Regions from separate parts of the Homo sapiens genome. Here region 2 is linked to region 1. The links come from fine-mapping of genetic effects on gene expression. Tissue or cell type: aorta. Region 1 holds a variant in brackets; the other region holds the start of a gene. All regions are shown on one strand. Distances are between the middles of the regions.

The links. PIP is the estimated chance that this variant, and not a neighbour inherited with it, causes the effect.
Region 2: OOEP starts here. The variant in region 1 is fine-mapped to the expression of OOEP in aorta (GTEx, PIP above 0.99).

The regions. Positions count from the first base shown.
Region 1 is chr6:73,391,392-73,401,636 of GRCh38, reverse strand. It overlaps DDX43 (DEAD-box helicase 43), which reads right to left and starts at 6,809. Exons shown (of 17, transcript NM_018665.3): 1 at 6,482-6,809; 2 at 3,893-3,948; 3 at 1,274-1,403. The coding sequence starts at 6,731. LOC124901538 (small nucleolar RNA U13) reads left to right here and starts at 7,624; the gene lies at 7,624-7,724. It also overlaps a transcript of OOEP not described here and the pseudogene RPS6P8. RefSeq lists enhancers at 2,634-3,291, 6,692-7,192. The variant G/C (reference allele first, on the strand shown) is at 6,803.
Region 2 is chr6:73,364,915-73,373,882 of GRCh38, reverse strand. OOEP (oocyte expressed protein) reads left to right here and starts at 3,986. Exons shown (of 3, transcript NM_001080507.3): 1 at 3,986-4,280; 2 at 4,498-4,677; 3 at 5,020-5,328. The coding sequence starts at 4,091. The coding sequence ends at 5,099. OOEP-AS1 (OOEP antisense RNA 1) reads right to left here and starts at 4,179. Exons shown (of 2, transcript NR_174946.1): 1 at 3,798-4,179. It also overlaps the pseudogene RPL39P3.

The DNA of each region.
Region 1 (10,245 bases):
TAGAGACGGGGTTTCACCGTGTTAGCCAGGATGGTCTCGATCTCCTGACCTTGTGATCCACCCACCTTGGCTTCCCAAAGTGCTGGGATTACAGGCGTGAGCCACCATGCCTGGCCTCTATTTTGTTTTTTAATAAACAGACAATGCTTAAAATATAAAATTTGGGGTTTCTGTACTACATTAACATGACAACCTTGTCATTTGTTATCATTCAACAACTTATAAAAATTTAATTTTATTGGAGAAGGTAAGTAAAATAGCACAAGTCTAATGTTTGCTAAAATATTGTCATACCCATTACTCAGTCGTTAGAATAATAGTCCTGGGAAGCAGATATTATCTCAGATGAGTAGATGAAGAGCCAGGCTTGGTAGCTCACTCCTGTAATACCAGCACTTTGTGAGGCTGGTGTGGAGGATCGCTTGAATTCAGGACTCAAGACTAGCCTAGGCAACGTGGTGAAACCCCATCTCTACTCTACAAAAAATTTAATTAGCTGGGTGTGGTGGCACACACCTGTGGTCCCAGCTACTTGACAGGCTGAGGTGGGAGAATCACTCCCGCCCAGGAGGTCAAGGCTATAATGAGCCATGATCACACCACTGCACTCCAGCCTGGAAAACACAGTGAGAACCTGTCTCAAAACAATTTTAAAAATAAAATAAAAATAAAAATAAATAAATGAGTCAGATATAAAAATAGAATCTTAGACCTTGTCTTTTTCCCCAAGAAACACTAAAAGGCAATGGTGCCTTCTAAACCCAGGTGTCTCTATTCTACTTTCACATTGCATCTAGATATGATTCAGTAATTGTTTTCTCTATTCTAAACAGATCTGAGATTTTTAAAATAACCAAATATTTAAGCAGTTTTCAATGTCAGCCATGAATCTGAAGACAAGACTAGGGTTAGGATCCTGGGACCAATCCTTACTCTACCCACTAACACTAAAGTGTGTGTATTAAAGGGTTATTTCCCTGCTTGTGAGAACTAGATTAATACAAAGACAAAAAATAAATAAATAAAAATAAAGGGTTATTTCATTTTCACTTACCTGTGGCTAAAAGTAAAACTGCTAGGCATGAACATAGAGCTCTGGTATTTTAATTTGAGGAAAAATATTCTGGGCTTTCATTCATAGTAAAAAATCATTAAGACTGCATTTATGGCAGCCTAATGCTTTGAATCAGAAAGTGAAATCAGGTATAATGGCTTATAACACTGAATGAAATTAAAAACTTTTAAAGGGGTTCAGTGGGAGAAAATTACTTACCAATTCCGCATTCTGAATTGTAATTTTCTTCTAGCTTTTTAACAAAATTGTCTATCACTGCTTTTGCTTTCGTTTGCATTGCCTTGCTGCCAAAAATTTTGACTAATGATTCTGGTTGTTCTTGTATTATCTAGGTACAAGGGGAAAAAGAGGTGAGACTTAAAATTTCCCTAAAAAACATAAAAAGTTCCCTAAGCCCCTAACCCCTTCCAACAATCACTCAACTTCAAAATCTATTACAGTATAAAGTAAATACAGTATTACCACCAATCAATGTCTAAATTTCTAGTTAGAGAGGAATACTACTTATATTTACTCTGGGATTTACCTCCTAGTCAGATGGAGAGGGGCAGGACAACCTGAACATTTAAAATTGGATAGCTAGGGAATAAACTCAGCAAATAGTGTAGAGAAATAATTAAGGCACTAACCTGACAGGTAATATTATTTTGATTCTGAGGTCTCCAACCTATAAAATGGTATTTGTTTCGCTAATTTTACAGAATTGTAGGGCTGAAATGACATAATCTATGCACTATATAGAGAGTTCACTGAACTGCCAGGTTACTTAGGTAAATTTTTAACTTGATGGGATTCTATCCTTAACTCATGTATACTGTCAGGGGCTTACGTTTACAAGACTGACACATTTTGTGAATAGAATCTACAAGTAACACCTATCAACATCCATAATTTCAAATACCCTAATGGATTCAATATTTATCTAGAAAATACTATACACCAAATTTTGTCTTAGGTTGGCAATTCAAACAATGTTTATCAACTACAGTATTTACACGCACTATAACTCTGTATGAGTGCTGAAACGAGGCCATTATGGGATGCTATGGAAATGGACAGCTACACAGAATGGGGGCCTTAGACTTCCCTGAAAGGTGAGAAGGAATTATTTATGAGGAAAAAGCTATGGTAGCAGCGTATGTCAGGAAGTGGGTGGAGTACTCAAGGAATTAGGGGAGAGGACACTGGAGAGAGTGAACAGGCCAGAATCAAGTCAGCAACTTTAAGGAGTCTAGACTTACAGGCCTGAGATACTATGAAAGGCTTTCACATAGGAAAAGGACACAAATAATTTGTGTTTTAAAATGATTGTTCTAGCCAAGCGCAGTGGCTCACACCTGTAATCCCAGCACTTTGGGAGGCTGAGGCGGGTGGATTATTTGAGGTCAGGAGTTTGAGACCAGCCTGGCCAACATAGTGAAACCCTGTCTCTACTTAAAGTACAAAAATTAGCCAGGTGAGCTGGAAGGGCACCTGTAATCCCAGCTACTCTGGAAGCTGAGGCAGGAGAATCTCTTGAACCCAGGAGGCAGTGGTTGCGGTGAGCTAAGAGCACACCAGTGCACTTCAGCCTGGGCGACAGAGCAAGACTCCGTCTCAAAAAAATATAAAAAAATAAAATTATTGTTCTGACCACAGTGGAGAATGATTAGAGGATACAAATGGAAGCAGGACATACAGTTAGTGGGGAAGGCAAATGATGACATTCCCCTTGAGAAGTACAAGAAATAGTCAAGACCTAGCGGTGAATGAGAATAAGGAAATACCAATGTGGATAGTCAGATTACAAACTTGTAAACTCAGTGAATGTTGCTACCATTCACTAAGATTGAGAATACAAGAGCTAGCCAAAGTTTGAGGAAAGGGGTTCTCTCTGGAAGGAAGACCTTTTGGACATGATGAATATTCCAGTGATCTCATTCTTATGCAGATTATCTCTAACGATTTTTACCTCCGAATATTCCAGTGATCTCATTCTTATGCAGATTATCTCTAACGATTTTTACCTCCGACTGGGCCTGGTGGCTCACGCCTGTAATCCCAGCACTTTGGGAGGCAGAGGTGGGCGGATCACCCGAGGTCAGGAGTTCAAGACTAGCCTGGCCAACATGGTGAAACCCCATTTCTACTAAAAATACAAAAATTAGCCAGATATGGTGGCGGGGGCCTGTAATCCCAGCTACTCCAGAGGCTGAGGCAGGAGAATTGCTTCAACCCGGGAGGCAGAGGTTGCAGTGACCCAAGATCGTGCCACTGCACTCCAGCCTGGGCGACAGAGTGAGACTCTGTCTCAAAAAAATAAAAAAGATTTTTACCTCCAAGAGTCCCAAAACCTACACCTGGAACAGCTTAAAATTCAGGTGGCTTCTTGAGAATAAGGAGTATGAAGAACTTTGGCAACTTACCTAATTTACCCTAGTATGTTAATAACTCAGCAGAAATTAGAGTTAAGGCCTGGTGCAGTGGCTCATGCCTGTAATCCCAACACTTTGGGAGGCCAAGGCAAGTGGATCACTTGAGGCCAGGAGTTGAGAGCAGCCTGGCCAACACGGTAAAACCCCGTCTCTACTAAAAATAAAAAAATAAAATAAAATAAATTAGCTGGGCTTGGTGGTGGGAACCCGTAATTCCAGCTACTCAGGAGGCTGAAGCAGGAGAATTGCTTGAACCCAGGAGGCAGAGGTTGTACTGATATCACGTCACTGCACTCCAGCCTGGGAGACAGAATGAGGCTGTCTTAAAAAGAAAAGTAGAGTTAGGTGCTCCCTTAGAAATGCATGATGCTCTCTTAAGGGCCGAAAAACACAGATGGCTTACTTGGATTGTGGTGTTTGTTGTACTTTGTATATTCTTTATTTTTGACCCACCACGACCTGTTTTTAAAAATAAAGGAATATATTGTTATAAGTTGAAATTAGTAAGTTGAAAATTTACCCATTTTCCTCAACAAACATTCTCTAGTTCTTCCCCCCAAATGCTCCTAGGGTTCAACAATCATTTTTTGTTTGGAAAGAGGGAAGTAAGAGGTTCTATTCCAAATTTTGGTGGGTTTTAGGAGACTCTTATCCCAGACAGGTGGAGACTATGGATTCTGTATCAGCTTGCACAAAACTTAATTGGGTCCAAACTGGTGGAGAGGATGTAGAAATTGGAACTCTTTCATACAACTCAACAAATAAGTTTTGAAAAATGGGCAAACACTTGAATAGACATTTCTCCAATGACATACAAATGGCCAACAGGCATGAGATGTTCAACATCACTAATCAGGTCCACGCAAATCGAAACCACAAAATGATTGTCACCTCACATCTGGTAGGATGACCATTATCAAAAACAGAAAAAAAGTGTTGGTAAGAATGTGGAGAAATTGGAACCCCTGTGTACTGTTGGTGGGATTGAAAATGGTGCTGCCACTATGGAAAACAGTATAGATTAACTAAAAAATTAAAAACAGAATTAACATATGATCCAGCAGTCTCACTTGGGGTATACATCCAAAAGAATTTAAAGCTGAGTCTCAAAGATATATTGCACTTCCATTTTCATAATAACACTACTGAAATCAAAAGGTGGAAGCTACCCATTTATCATAGACTGATTAATAGATAAAGTAAGGTATATACTTAATAATGGAATACCATTCAGCCTTAGTAAGGAAAAAAATCCTGTCTCATGCTACAAAATGGGTAAGCCTGGAGGATATTATTCTTAGAGAAATGAGCCAATTACAAAGACAATTACTGCATGATTCTACTTATATGGATTACCTAAAGTAATCTAACTCAGAAACAATGTAAATGGTGGGTCCCTGGGATGGGGCAGGAAAAAATGGGGAGCTGTTCAATGAGTATACAGTTTTAGTCATGCAAGTTCCAGAGATCTGGGATACAACATTGTGCTTATTATTAGTATTGTGATATACGTTTAAAAGAGGGTATTTCATTTTTTACAATAAAAAAGATGGATCCAGATCCAACATCAAGTGAGTGCTCTGTAGCACAGTGCCCTTTCATCTGCTAAGTATTAACTTAAGTGATTTTTATTGCAAACCTAGTGGCTTTCTTTCTTGGAGCATCATTCTTCAGATCTGAGCCCAAGCCTTCTGAAAGGCCAATGAGTCTCTGGGTAGTACAGCAATTAGTCTTACAATGCACTATTTTGTAGCAGCCTCCATCTATTCATTTTTCTCAGGTTTTAAAAAGGGTGAAATACACCTAATAGGTAAAATGTGGCAATTTATACTCGGGCTTAATGGCAATCAATGGGGTAATCATTCTAATCATTTTTAAATGCTTTTCAAAAAAATTCAGAAATGGGCCGGGCTTACGCCTGTAATCTCAGCACTTTGGGAGGCCGAGGTGGGTGGATCCACAGGAGTTCGAGACCATCCTGGGTAATATGGTGAAACCTCATCTTTACTAAAAACACAAAAATTAGCCAGGTGTGGTGGCGCACGTAATTTCAGCTACTAGGGAGGCTGAGGTGCTAGAATCGCTTGAGCCCGGGAGGTGGAAGTTGTAGTGAGCCGAGATCACGCCACACTGCACTCCAGCTGGGGCCACAGAGCTGCCTCAAAAAAAAAAAAAATCAAAAGAAAGAAAAAAATTAAAAATTCAGAATTGAATGTTAACACTCAAGATGTAGTAAGAAAAGTTTTTAACTTTTTAAAAATTAAGGAAACTAAAAGCAAGATACAACTGCTCTAGGCAGCCCTACAATGACCTTATAGCTTTTCTTTGATTTCTGGCTCTAAATGGTACTCATAGAAAGACTGATTAAGTTTTGTTTTTCATTCTGGGGTTAGCTGTCTGTTAAAAGGCCTGTTCTAAGCATCCCTCTTCAGCCCTAAGATTTCATAAGTCTTCTAGGAGTTGCTCTCCCAAATACATTGTCTGTATAAACACCAAAAGGTGGATTAAATTACTTTTTTTTTTTTTTTTTAATTGAGACGGAGTCTTGCTCTGTCACCTAGGCTGGAGTGCAGTGGCGCGATCTCAGCTCACTGCCAACTTCTGCCGCCGGGTTCAAGCCATTCTCCTGCCTCAGCCTCCGGAGTATCTGGGATTACAGGCGCGCGCCACCACGCCCAGCTATTTTTTTTAATATATATATTTTTAGTAGAGACAGGGTTTTGCCATGTTGGCCAAGCTGGTCTCGAATTCCTGACCTGGGGTGATCCGCCCGCCTCGGCCTCCCAAAATACTGGGATTACAGGCGTGAGCCAACGCGCCCGGCCAGATTAAATTATACTCTATCCCCAGGTTTTACAAATAGCTCTGGGAGAGACCTGAACCTCACTAGGTGGCAGCTGATTGGAGGTGAGGCAGTGGGGAGGAAATGCCTTCGCCCAGGCTCCGCCCCTGGCCCCACCTATCCTGCCCTGCCAGCCACTCCCATTCTCACCGATTACCGCGCCAACAAAGTGGCTCTTCAAAGCAAAACACAGCGGCAGTTCCTCGTGACCAGCGGCCACGGCCTCCGGGGGCCTAGAGGTGCCTCTCCAGCGACCACCTCTGCCGACACTATATCCCTCAGGACCTGTTCGATTCAACTCCTCCGCCGGCCTCCTCTCTGGCGCTCGGGACACTGTCGAGCTTCGCCGACTAGCAACGACCCACGTAGAGGCCTTGGGAGCTCCTCCGTGGTGGGACATTGTTCCAAGAAGGGGCGCGTCCGACGTCGTTGCCGTCCAGCTCTGCACCACCTGACCGTGACGTCGTAAGA[G/C]TAGCGTGCCAGGGAAGCCACGCAGCCGCTACTTAAGGAGCCCGCACGAGGCTAGCCCCCCCGCCCACGCTCTCTATCCCGCCCACTTCGCACTGATTTCACGCAGCCATTGGCCAGTGAGCGTTGTGGGCGGGACTTTCCCAGTTTTAGCCAATCGGTTTTCTGAACCGTGGGAGTGTGCCTTGAAGTAGTCGATGTGCCCCGCCCCCCACCCCCCCACTGTGTATTCCTTTCCAGGCGTGGGACTTTTTCCAAACGCCCAATTTGCTCCCTCCCCTACTGGACACACACCTCGGGTTCCTGGCATCTCAGTGCCTTGGAAACTTTTTTTTTTCTTTTTAAATAGAGACGGGGTGTCGCCGTGTTGCCCAGGCAGGTCTTGAACTCTTGGCTTCTGGCTTCAAGTGATCTTCCAGCCTCGGCCTCCCAAAGTGCTGGGATTACAGTCAGCCACTGCACCGGAAATGTTTTCAACCGTGACCCATAAAGGTAAGTCACTGTTACAAGGTGACCCAATCCACACATAAAAAACTTGAAACAACAGATTGACAAAACAGCATTTATCCTCGCTATGTAAGCTGCATTTTGATACATTTACGCTTATTTTAGTTTTTGAAATGGTTGTAATCCACAAAATTAAAAAAAAAAAATTTAATAGAGATGGGAGTTCCCAGTATGTTGCCCAAGGCTGGTCTTGAACTCCTGGACTCAAGTGATCCTCCCACCTCCACCTCCCATAGTGCTGGGGTTACAGGCCTGAGCCACTGCACTCGGCTCACAAAATGTATTTAATGGCCCACAGCTTAAAGATCACTGACTTGATCCTTTTGTAAGTCATAAGTGTGATTGGGTTTTCATGCTCTTGTGTCAAATGTGCCTCCCTCAAACCTTGTTACGAAGTGGGCACACTACCCACCTGATGTGAAAAATGAAGAGAAAAAGATCACTGGCTTGAGAGACATTCATTGCTCTACACAGTCTTCTGGATGTTTGCTATGTTTTTTTTGTTTGTTTTCTTTTGTTTTGTTTTTGACCTCTGTCGCCTAGGCTGGAGTGCAGTGGTGCGATCACTCACTGCAGATTCGACCTGTTGGACTCAAGTGATACTCCCACCACAGCCTCCCGAATAGTTGGGACTACAGGTGTGCACCACCATGCCAGGCTAATTATTTTGTAAAGACAAGACCTCCCTATGTTGCCCGGGCTGGTATCCAACTCCTCCTGCCTTGGCCTCACACAGTTGAGGGATTACAGGTATGAGCCACAGTGCCTGGCCTGCCATAATTTTAGAGCTAAGGAAATAAATTGAATAGATTCCTGAAGCATTACCGTCACTGCAGCCTGGCTCTGTGGCTGGACATACTACTACTCCAGGGCTTCAAGCCAGCTGCAAGTGCACTCCTTTGATTAGGATCTTTGAATTATCTGAACAAATTTCAGTTTAGGCCAGCAGGGATAACTCATACCTGTAATCTCAACACTTTAGGAGGCCTAGGCGGAGGATCTCTTGAGCCCCAAGGTTCAACATCAGTCTGGGTAACATAGTGAGACCCTGCCGGGTGTGGTGGTACAGGCTGTAGTCCCAGCTACTCAGGAGGCTGAGGTGGGAGGATCACTGAGCCAGGGAGGTTGAGGCTACAGTGAGCCGAAGTGCCGAAATGGTGTCACTGCACTCCAGTCTGGGCAACAGAGCAGAGACCCTGTCTCAAAAAAAAAAAATTTTTTTTTTTTCAGTTCAATCATCCATCAAACACAGTGGACACCAGGCCAGGCATGGTGTGGCTCATGGCTGTAATCCCAGCACCTTGGGAATGTGAGGCAGGCAGATCACTTGAGGTCTGGAGCTCGTGACCAGCCTGGTCAACATGGTGAAACCCCATCTCTAATAAAAATGCAAAAAATATTGGCTGGATGTGGTGGCTCATGCCTGTAATCCCAGCACTTTGGGAGGCAGAGGCGGCTGGATCACAAGGTCAAGAGATCGAGACCATCCTGGCCAACATGGTAAAACCCCATCTCTACTAAAAATACAAAAATTAGCTGGGCGTGGTGGTGTGCGCCTGTAGTCCCAGCTACTTGGGAGGCTGAGGCAGAATAATTGCTTGAACCCGGGAGGCAGAGGTTGCAGTGAGCCAAGATTGTGCCACTGCACTTCAGCCTGATGACAGAGCGAGAGACTCCATCTCAAAAAAAAAAAAAAAAAAAAAAAAAAAAAGATTACCTAGGAAATAGGCCAGGCGCGGTGGCTCACACCTGTAATCTCAGCACCTTGGGAGGTTGAGGTGGGTAGATCATCTGAGGTCAGGAGTTCAAGACCAGCCTGACCAACGTGGTGAAACCCCATCTCTACTAAATACAAAAAATTAGCCAGGCATGGTGGCGAATGTCTGTAATCCCAGCTACTTGAGAAGCTGAGGTGAGAGAATTGCTTGAACCTGGGAGGCAGAAGTTGGCAGTGAGCCAAGATTGCGCCATTGCACTCCAGCCTGGGCAACAAGAGTGAAATTCCATCTCAAAAAAAAGATAAAAAAACATTAAATAAATGATAGGCATTTAATCTCCATTCTCTAATCTTTAATCTGAAATGGGTAGTATTAACAATCTTTAGAAAGGAATTTTGTTGGATTCAACGTGCTGAGATTTTATTAAGGATTTTTGCATCTATGTTAGTCAGAAATACTGGTCTGTACTTTTCTTGTAATGTCTTTGACTGGTTTTAGTATTAGGGTAATGCTGGCCTCATAGAATCTCTTCCAGAAAGTAGAAGCAGAGGGATACTTCCTAACTCATTCTATGAGGCCAAAATTATTCTAACACTGAGAGTGAACCTTCACGTAAACTAGGAACTTTCAACAGCCAGGAAGGACATACCCATCAAAGACAATAACCATGACTCATAAACAATGGCTTCCAGTGCTTTGAAGAAACCTCAGGTGCTTGTCACTGACCTGTGTTCGTGAACTAAGAAATGGGAATATGTGGGCTAAGAAATAGTTTCTCTTGATAAACAACACTTATAAAAACCTCTCCTTTTCATGGTGCCTCAGAGACAATCAGCTGCTTCAACATGAAGCTGAATGTCTCCTTCCCAGCCTCTGGCTGCCAGAATCTCTTTGAAGTGGATGAGGATTGCAAATGTCATACTTTTTCTGAGAAGCTATAGTCACAGATGTTGATGCTGATGCTCTAGGTGAAGAATAGAAGGGTTATGTGGTCGGAATCAGTGGTGGGGACAACAGACGAGGCTTCCTCATGAAGCAGGGTATTTTGACCCAAGACTGTGTCTGCCTGCTACTGAGTAAGGGGTATTCCTCTCCTCCAAGGAGAACTGAAGAAAGAATGCACAAATCTGTTCAAGGTTGTATTGTGGATGCCAATCTGAGTATTCTCAACTCAGTTATTGTTAGAGAGAGAAGGCTAATCCTGAACTGCCTGATAATATA
Region 2 (8,968 bases), 27 kb after region 1:
GCGCAGTGGCTCAAGGCTATAATCTCAGCACTTTGGGAGGCCGAGGTGGGTAGATCACCTGAGGTCAGGAGTTCGAGACCAGCCTGGACAACATGGTGAAACTCCACCTCTAGTAAAAATACAAAATTAGCTGGGTGTGGTGGTGCATGCCTGTAATCCCAGCTACTTGGGAGGCCTAGGCAGGAGAATCACTTGAACCCAGGAGGCGGAGGTTGCAGTGAGCCAAGATTCGCCATTGCACTCCAGCCTGAGCAAAAGAGCAAAACTCCGTCTCTAAATAAATAAATAAATAAAAAATAATTGCATACTTAAAATCTTCTGGCCCTGGCCAGTTGCAGTGGCTCATGCCTGTAGTCCAACATTTTGGGAGGCCAAGGCAGGAGGACTGCTTGAGCCCAGGAGTTCGAGACCAGCCTGGGCAACATAGGGAGACCTCTGTCTCTACAGTGGGTGTGATGGCATGCACCTGCCTCAGCTACCCAGTGAGCTGAGATCGTGCCACTGCACTCTAGCCTGGGTGACAGAGTGAGACCCTGTCTCAAAAAAGAAAACAAAAGAAGAGAAGGAGCCCTCTTCCTTTCTCCGCCATCGTGGTGTGTTCTTGACTCCGCTGCTCGCCATGTCTTCTCACAAGACTTTCAGGATTAAGCGATTCCTGGCCAAGAAACAAAAGCAAAATCGTCCCATTCCCCAGTGGATTCGGATGAAAACTGGAAATAAAATCAGGTACAACTCCAAAAGGAGACATTGGAGAAGAACCAAGCTGGGTCTATAAGGAATTGCACATGAGATGGCACACATATTTATGCTGTCTGAAGGTCACGATCATGTTACCATATCAAGCTGAAAATGTCACCACTATCTGGAGATTTCGACGTGTTTTCCTCTCTGAATCTGTTATGAACACGTTGGTTGGCTGGATTCAGTAATAAATATGTGAGGCCTTTCGTTTTTAAAAAAAAAAAAAAAAAAAAGGAAAGAAAAAGAGAAGGTGAGAAAGAATCTTCCGGCCCTTAAGAGCTCTGTGAAACGTCAGTTTGCTCTGGCCGCTTTCCCATTTTGATCTCGGGCTGGCGTCAGGCCCACTGCAGGATCCCTGGCACCCCAAGAAGCTAACCCAGATGGCGGGAAAAGTGTTCTATTAACCCAGCCAAGTTGGCTCAGTGCATCTCTCCACCTCAGTCTCTGGTGTTGGCTTCCATGCACTCGGGAAAACTGCCCACTTGTCCCCAGGCTTCCAAGGAGGCCCACGTGACTGACTGAGCTCCCAAAAGGTTTTCTTGCACAATAGCCCTCCTGTTTTGGCAGGCTCAGGTGCAAAGGCCTATCGGTCTCCCCAAAGCTGAGAGATGCGAAACCAACACTTGCGAATCAGATTCTGGCCTCTCACTGAGCAGGGAGGTTCTTTCCTCAGGGGAGAGCAGTAATCCCACAGGATCATTTCTTCCTTGAGGAAGAAATAACTGAACTAGCCACTGTTGGGCTACACCTGAGACTGAGTTGTATCTGAGACTAACTGCTTCACGGTGTCCAGCATGCTGGGGATTTATGTGGGGTTTATGGCAGAAGATCCCCACAAGATAATGGGGTGCCATCTTTTCCACACCAGGAAGTGGAATTTGAGAGAAGTTAACTTATTCCTGTGTGGCTCAGATCACCACAGTCCCCCTAAAGAAGCTGTTAAAATTCTATACATGCTGGGTAAAATATTCTTTGTCTACAGTAATGTAAGTGCGTCTCATGATTAGATTAAGGCTTTAATTTTTTTAGGTTTATTTTTAGGGTCTCGCTCTGTCACCCAAGCAGGAGTGCAGTGGTGTGATCATGGCTCACTGCACCCTCAAACCCCTTGGCTTAAGCGATCTGCTAGCCTCCACCTCCTAAAGGGCTGGGATTACAGGCACGAGCCACAATATCTGGCCTTGATTAGGTTAAGGGGTTTTTGTTTGTTTTTTGAGATGGAGTCTCACTCTGTAGCCCAGGCTGGAGTGTAGTGGTGCCATTTTGGCTCACTGCAACCTCTGCCTCTGGGGTTCAAGCAATTCTCCTGCCTCATCCTTTCGAGTAGCTGGGATTGCAGGTAACCACCACACACTGGCCAAATTTTTTTATTTTTATTTTTTTTTATTTTTGAGACAGAGTTTTGCTCTTGTTGTCCAGGCTGGAGTGCAATGGTGTGATCTTGGCTCACGACAACCTCCGCCTCCTGGGTTCAAGTGATTCTCCTGCCTCAGCCTCCTGAGTAGCTGGGATTATAGGCATGCACCACCATGTCCGGCTAATCTTTTGTATTTTTAGTACAGACTAGGTTTCTCCATGTTGGTCAGGCTGGTCTCGAACTCCCGACCTCAGGTGATCTGCCCGCCTCAGCCTCCCAAAGTGCTGGGATTACAGGCATGAGTGACCGTGTCTGGCCCACACCCATCTAATTTTTGTATTTTTAGTAGAGACCGGTTTTCTCCATGTTGGTCAGGCTGGTCTCAAACTCCTGACCTCAAGTGATCCTCCTGCCTTGGCCTCCCGAAGTGCTGGGATTATAGGCATGAGCCACCTTGCCTGGCCAGGTTAAGGTTTTAAATGTTTATTGCATCAGAGCCATAGCTAAATCTTGTTTTCCTGTAAGTATGCCCTGCACACCTGATAGTCAAGTTTTCTCAGAAACCATTGAGGGTGAGAGGGGGTGGGATCAGGGGCAGAAAACTGGAACCTCCACACAGTCCTAGATGATCATGTGGAGTCTGGAACATGCTTTTCACTATTTTGAGTTTTTTCTTCTATGCTGGCTGTGGTGGCTCACGCCTGTAATCCCAGCACTTTGGGAGGCCAAAGTGAGAGGACTGCTTGAGCCTAGGAGTTCAAAACCAGCCTGGCAACATAGTGGGACCCTGTCTCTACAAACAGACAAACAACAACAACAACAAAAAGAGCTGGAAAATAGCTGGGTGTGGTGGCAGGTGCCTGTGGTCTCAGCTACTCAGGAGGCTGAGATGGGAGGGTCGCTTAGGCCTGGGAGGTCGAGGCTTCAGTGAACCGAGATCGTGCCACTGCATTCCAGCCTAGGCAAGAGAGTGAGACCTATCTCAGAAAAATAGAAGTTTTAAAACAAACACATAGTTAATTGTAAGAACGAAATAGTATATTCAGCAGATACTATTCTGAAACAACCAAACAATATTTCTACAAATATAGTAGAAAATGTGTAAGGACATGCATGGGGATGATATATACACACTAGCTTCAGGATGATTTCCTCTGGAGAAGGAAAGGAAAGATGCTTGAGTAATATCTGTTTTAAAAACAGAGGAGTGAGGCAAATGTGGGGAAATGTCAACATCTGTTAAACTCGGGGAGGGTACATGGCCGTGTTATATTACTTTTTTGGATGTGTGAAACCTTTCATAATCCAAATTTTTAATTAAAATTACAAACATTGGGAAAAAATGTCCATCGATAATGGTTGTCTTAGGATACTGGAAATAAAGGAAAATTGTCTAACTTGCTACATGTTCTATAAGACCACCTCTGACGTGTTGTTTAAAACATGACACACTTGCTTGAATGATTTAAAAATGGTAACCATCCGGAGAGTCAGAAGATAACAACAGGGAGCAGAACAGAGAAAACTGACACATTGAACAAGCCTGCCCTGGGTCCGATATACCTATCTTTGGGAGGCAACGATGAAACCTTAACCTAGCCAGCAAAGGTGATTCCCAGTCTATTAATAGAGTCGTCAATTCAAACTCACACTGTTAATCAGCTATAAGGTGGGCAGAGGACTTTCAGGCTAAGCATACCTTACGAGCAGAGATGACGAAGGAGAGCATTGGAGACCCAACAGGAGGCCAAATGAATACTAGTTCAAGGTCAAAGAGGCAATCCCGGCGATTGAAGCAGCGCAGGAAGTGTCCAATGGTGCCGCTATGCCGGGGCGTCGCTTGCACCCGCTCACCCCGACGCGGTGCGAGGCGCCGCCGGAAGGGGCGGAGCGGGTCGAATATGGTAAAAGAGAGCCCGAGCTTCGCGCCTGGGTCTGGAAGAGGTCTTGCGAAAGCCGCCTCGAGCGCGCTCCGCGGCTGCTGGTCCCAGTATGGTCGATGATGCTGGTGCCGCTGAGTCCCAGCGGGGCAAACAGACTCCGGCCCACTCCCTGGAGCAGCTGCGTAGGTTACCACTTCCGCCGCCACAGATTCGCATCCGGCCCTGGTGGTTTCCGGTGCAGGAACTGAGAGACCCTTTGGTGTTCTACCTAGAGGCATGGCTGGCAGACGAGCTCTTTGGTGAGCGACCCCAGGTGTGCTAGTGGGCTGTCCACCTCCAGTCTGAGAGAGGCTTGGCAGAGCAGCTCTCTACAGTCTCTTTCCCAGATTCGCAAGCCAGGAGTGTTGCAGTGATGCCCACCTTCCAGTTCTTCCCTTCCCTGGCCAACATTCCCTTCAAATCCAGCTTCTAACCTGCCACCGTGCAGCCCCTCAGAGTTTTTCCTTACTTGTTTAGGCCCAGACCGAGCCATAATTCCAGAAATGGAGTGGACGAGCCAGGCCCTGCTGACAGTGGACATAGTGGACTCAGGGAACCTAGTCGAAATCACCGTTTTCGGGCGGCCCCGTGTACAGAATCGGGTGAAGAGCATGCTCCTGTGCCTGGCATGGTTTCACCGAGAACATCGTGCCCGAGGTGAGGGTCTTTGAGAACCTGCATGTGGAGGAAGCCACGAGTGACCATACTGGCCTTGCTCGGTTTCCTTCCATCCTCCCTTAACCTTCTCAAAATTTCTTGGTTTCCAGACCCCAGGGAGCTAGCTGTACGAAGTTTGTTGGGAGGGGATCCTGGGGTAGGACCTTGGGAAAGTCAGCAGAGATCTGATAGATTCAGACCCATCACTGCCCAAGTCAGCCTCACCTGGGTTACAGCACTATCGCAGATCTTTCTCTCCTCCCCAACTCCCAGTCACGGAGTAGTTCGAAACAGCAAACACTTGTCCCTGTCCATGGTTAGTATCAACTGCTTCTCTTCCAGCTGAGAAGATGAAACACCTTGAGAAGAACTTGAAGGCCCATGCATCAGACCCCCACTCTCCCCAGGATCCTGTTGCTTAAGACAACATAGTTACTGTTGGGAACATCTTAACTTTCTAACTTTTGCTGCTAAAGTTGAAGAAAAGCAAGTATAGCATTCTTAAATCCCCGTATTCCTTTTTCCTGTGTCTTGATGGATTGTGGTTTATTTTGTTGCAAGAGTGAGTTTGAACTATTCTAATAAAGAAATGGCTATTTTGCCAAAAGCATTAAGATCTTCACACACTTATAATAAAGCAAATTTATAAAAGATTGACTCCCACTCATGTTTTGATATGAAGGGTGGGCAGGTGATAGTTTTGTAGGTTTTTGTTTTTGTTTTTTTTTCCTGAATTCCCATCATTTTGAAACTCCTAATCCTTTTATGATTTTCTGGTCAGAGAGAGGCCCTCACCCACAGGGAGCGGATATGCAGGGGCAGATAACCTCACAAATGGTGATCTGTTTTGTTTTTACATAATTGGTCCTCAAACTTTAAAGCTTGTAAGAAATCACCTTGGGAGCTTGTTAAAACACAATTTCCTTGGCTCCTTCTCCAGAGAATTCTGATTCAGTACTTTTGGGGTGGGGCTTAAAATTTCATTTCTGATGAGCTCACACATACTACTAAAGCAGCTTATCTGAGGCTCTCACTTTGAAGCTGGTAATTGATCCCCCGAAGAGCACCAGCTGTGCGTTTTCCTGGAGTGGGGCATCCATTGGGCAGAGGATGACGTTGCAAGAAGCAAGCCTGGGCGGTCAGCGTTCATTAATGGTAGTTTTCGATTTACCACGGAAGAGCAGGGTTCCCAGGCACCTTGGCTCGTGGATGGCGCCCTGCCTTGGAGCCGGCTGTCTACCTTTTTCTACAAGGCGAGGCTGCACGGGTGTCCGGCATGGGCCAGGTTGTTTTTCCACTACGTGTTGTACTGAAATTACCAATCTCTGCAAAACAGCTCCTATCCTTGCCGCCCCACTTTCTGGAAGTAGAATTTTTGGGGCGAAAGGTGCCAAAAGCCCTGTGGGTTCAAGCACAGTTTGGATTGGTTTGACTCATGGAATTTATTCACTCCTTGGCAATAAAGTATTCTAGCCTTTTGCAAGCGTTTTAAACTCACAAGTCTCTTTAATTGTGCTTTTTTGATTAGAGGTGATGTTGAATATTTTCTTTGTTTCAGTTTTACATTTTTCTTTATTCATTCCTTTTTTTTTTTTTTTTTTTTTTTGAGATGGAGTCGCTCTGTCCCCCAGGCTGGGGTGCAGTGGCGCAATCTCGGCTCACTGTACGCTCCGCCTCCCAGGTTCACCCCATTCTCCTGCCTCAGCCTCCCGAGTAGCTGGGACTGCAGGCGCCCGCCACCATGCCCGGCTAATTTTTTTTTTGTATTTTAGTAGAGACGGGGTTTCATTGTGTTAGCCAGGATGGTCTCCATCTCCTGACCTCGTGATCCGTCCACCTCAGCCTCCCAAAGTGCTGGGATTACAGGCGTGAGCCACCGTGCCCAGCTTTCCTGGTGAGATTTTTATTGTTTATTTTTATTTATTTTTGAGATGGAGTCTCGCTCTGTTACCCAGGCTGGAGTGCAGTGGTGTGATCTCGGCTCACTACAACCTCCGCCTCCCGTATTCAAGCAATTCTTCTGCCTCAGCCTCCCAAGTATCTGGGATTACTGGCATGTGCCAACACACCTGGCTAATTTTCGTATTTTTAGTAGAGACGGGATTTCACTATGTTGCAAGGGTGGTCTCAAACTCCTGACCTCAGGTGATTCTCCTGCCTTGGCCTCCCAAAGTGGTGGGATTAGAGGCGTGAGCCACTGCACCTGGCCCTGGTGGGATTTTTATTTTTATTTATTTATTTTATTTTATTTTTTGAGACAGAGTCTCGCTTTGTCACCCAGGCTGGAGTGCAGTTGCACGATCTTGGCTTACTGCAACCTCCGTCTCCCAGGTTCAAACGATTCTCTTGCCTCAGCCTCCTGAGTAGCTGGGATTACAGGTGCGTGCCACCACGCCCAGCTAATTTTTTGTATTTTTAGTAGAGATGGGGTTTCACCATGTTAGCCAGGATGGTCTCGGTTTCCTGACCTCGTGATCCACCTGCCTCAGCCTCCCAAAGTGCTGGTATTACAGGCGTGAGCCACCGTGCCTGACCCCTGGTGGAATTTTTATAAAACCATTGAACATTTTGGGTTTTTGTTGAGACAGTCTCACTCTGTCACCCAGGCTGGAGTGCAATGGTGCAATCTCGGCTCACCGAAACCTCTGCCTCCCGGGTTCAAGCGATTCTCTTGCCTCAGCCTCCCGAGTAGCTGGGATTACAGGCACCTGCCACCATGCCTGGCTAATTTTTGTATTTTTAGTAGAGAATGGCCATTCTGGTCTCGAACTCGTGCCCTCAACTGATCCACCTGCCTTGGCCTTCCAAAGTGGTGGGATTACAGGCATAAGCCACTGCACCTGGCCCATTAAATATTTTGTTATTGGGGAAAAAGGGGTAAGCTTAAAACTTATTCTAATTTTTCCAAAAATACTGTATGATCCTAAACTCCTTCCATCCTTTGTACACATTAACATATATTGAAGTCCTAATCCCCAGTACCTCAGAATATGACTATATTTGGGCAATATTTGAAATCTTTGACTCTCAAGACTCTTGGCATAGGGCAACCTCTCCTGTTCCTCCATGCTGGGCAGCTGGCTTGGCTTGATGGCATCTATAATTCCAGCATGATATAGAGTTTCCATTTACTGGGTGTTTAGAGAAAGAAGCAGCCATATGAATAGGTGAAACTTAAAGTGTCAGTTCCGGGAAAGATGTTCATAGATATTTTGGATATGAGTTGAAAAGGTTGTGAGGGCCGGACATGGTGGCTCAGGCCTGTATTCCCAGCACTTTGGGAGGCTGAGACAGGTGTTGACCAGCCTGGCCAACATAGTGAAACCCAGTCTCTACTACAAATAAAAAAAATCAGCCAGGTGTGGTGGTGGGCGCCTGTAATTCCAGCTGCTCGGGAGGCTGAGGCAGGAGAATTGCTTAAACCCAGGAGGTGGAGGTTGCAGTGGAATGCCGTTGCATTCCAGCCTGGGTGACAGAGTGAGACTCCATCTCAAAAAAAAAAAAAAAAAAAAAAGAGTAGACTTGCCCTCTTAAATATTAAAACAGTCTATAAAGCTACTTAATTAAAATGGGGGTAGATATCAGAAAAAGTAGAAAAGTTACACATGAACATAAAATAGATTGGTAACACTGAGTTTGGGCAAGGACAGTGAAAACAGCTTGTAAAGGAGAGAACCTGACATTCTGGTAAGGTGGGTATTACACAGAGAAAGACAACATACACATTAAGTTTTAGCTCTGCTCTGATGTAGCCTCATTTGAAACTGATTTTGTGTTGATTTTGAATTTAAAGTGTTCTAAAGTTCTTCTAAAATTAGTCAACTATTTTAATAAAATGATTAGCGGTTAAAAGTTGCTAATAAGTTATTGTAAATTCAGCTTTATGTGGTAATTCCCTTATTGTAAGATACATGATTATTTTAAACTGGAGTGATAATTAGCGGTGACAAAAAGAGTCTGATAGACATTCACCTTATATTTAAAGTTAGCTTTGAACTTTTAAAAATTACTAGTGATTGGCCGGGCGTGGTGGCTCATGCCTGTAATCCCAGCACTTTCGGAGACCCAGGCGGGTGGATCACCTGAAGTCAGATCAGCCTGGCCAACATAGTGAAGCCCCTTCTCTACTAAAAACACAAAAATTAGCTGGGCGTGGTGGCGCGGGCCTGTAGTCCCAGCTACTCGGGAGGCTGAGGCAGGAGAATCGTTTGAACCCAGGAGGCAGAGGTTGTGTTGAGGCGAGATCGAGCCGTTGCACTCCAGCCTGGGCCACAGAGAGAGATTCTGTCTC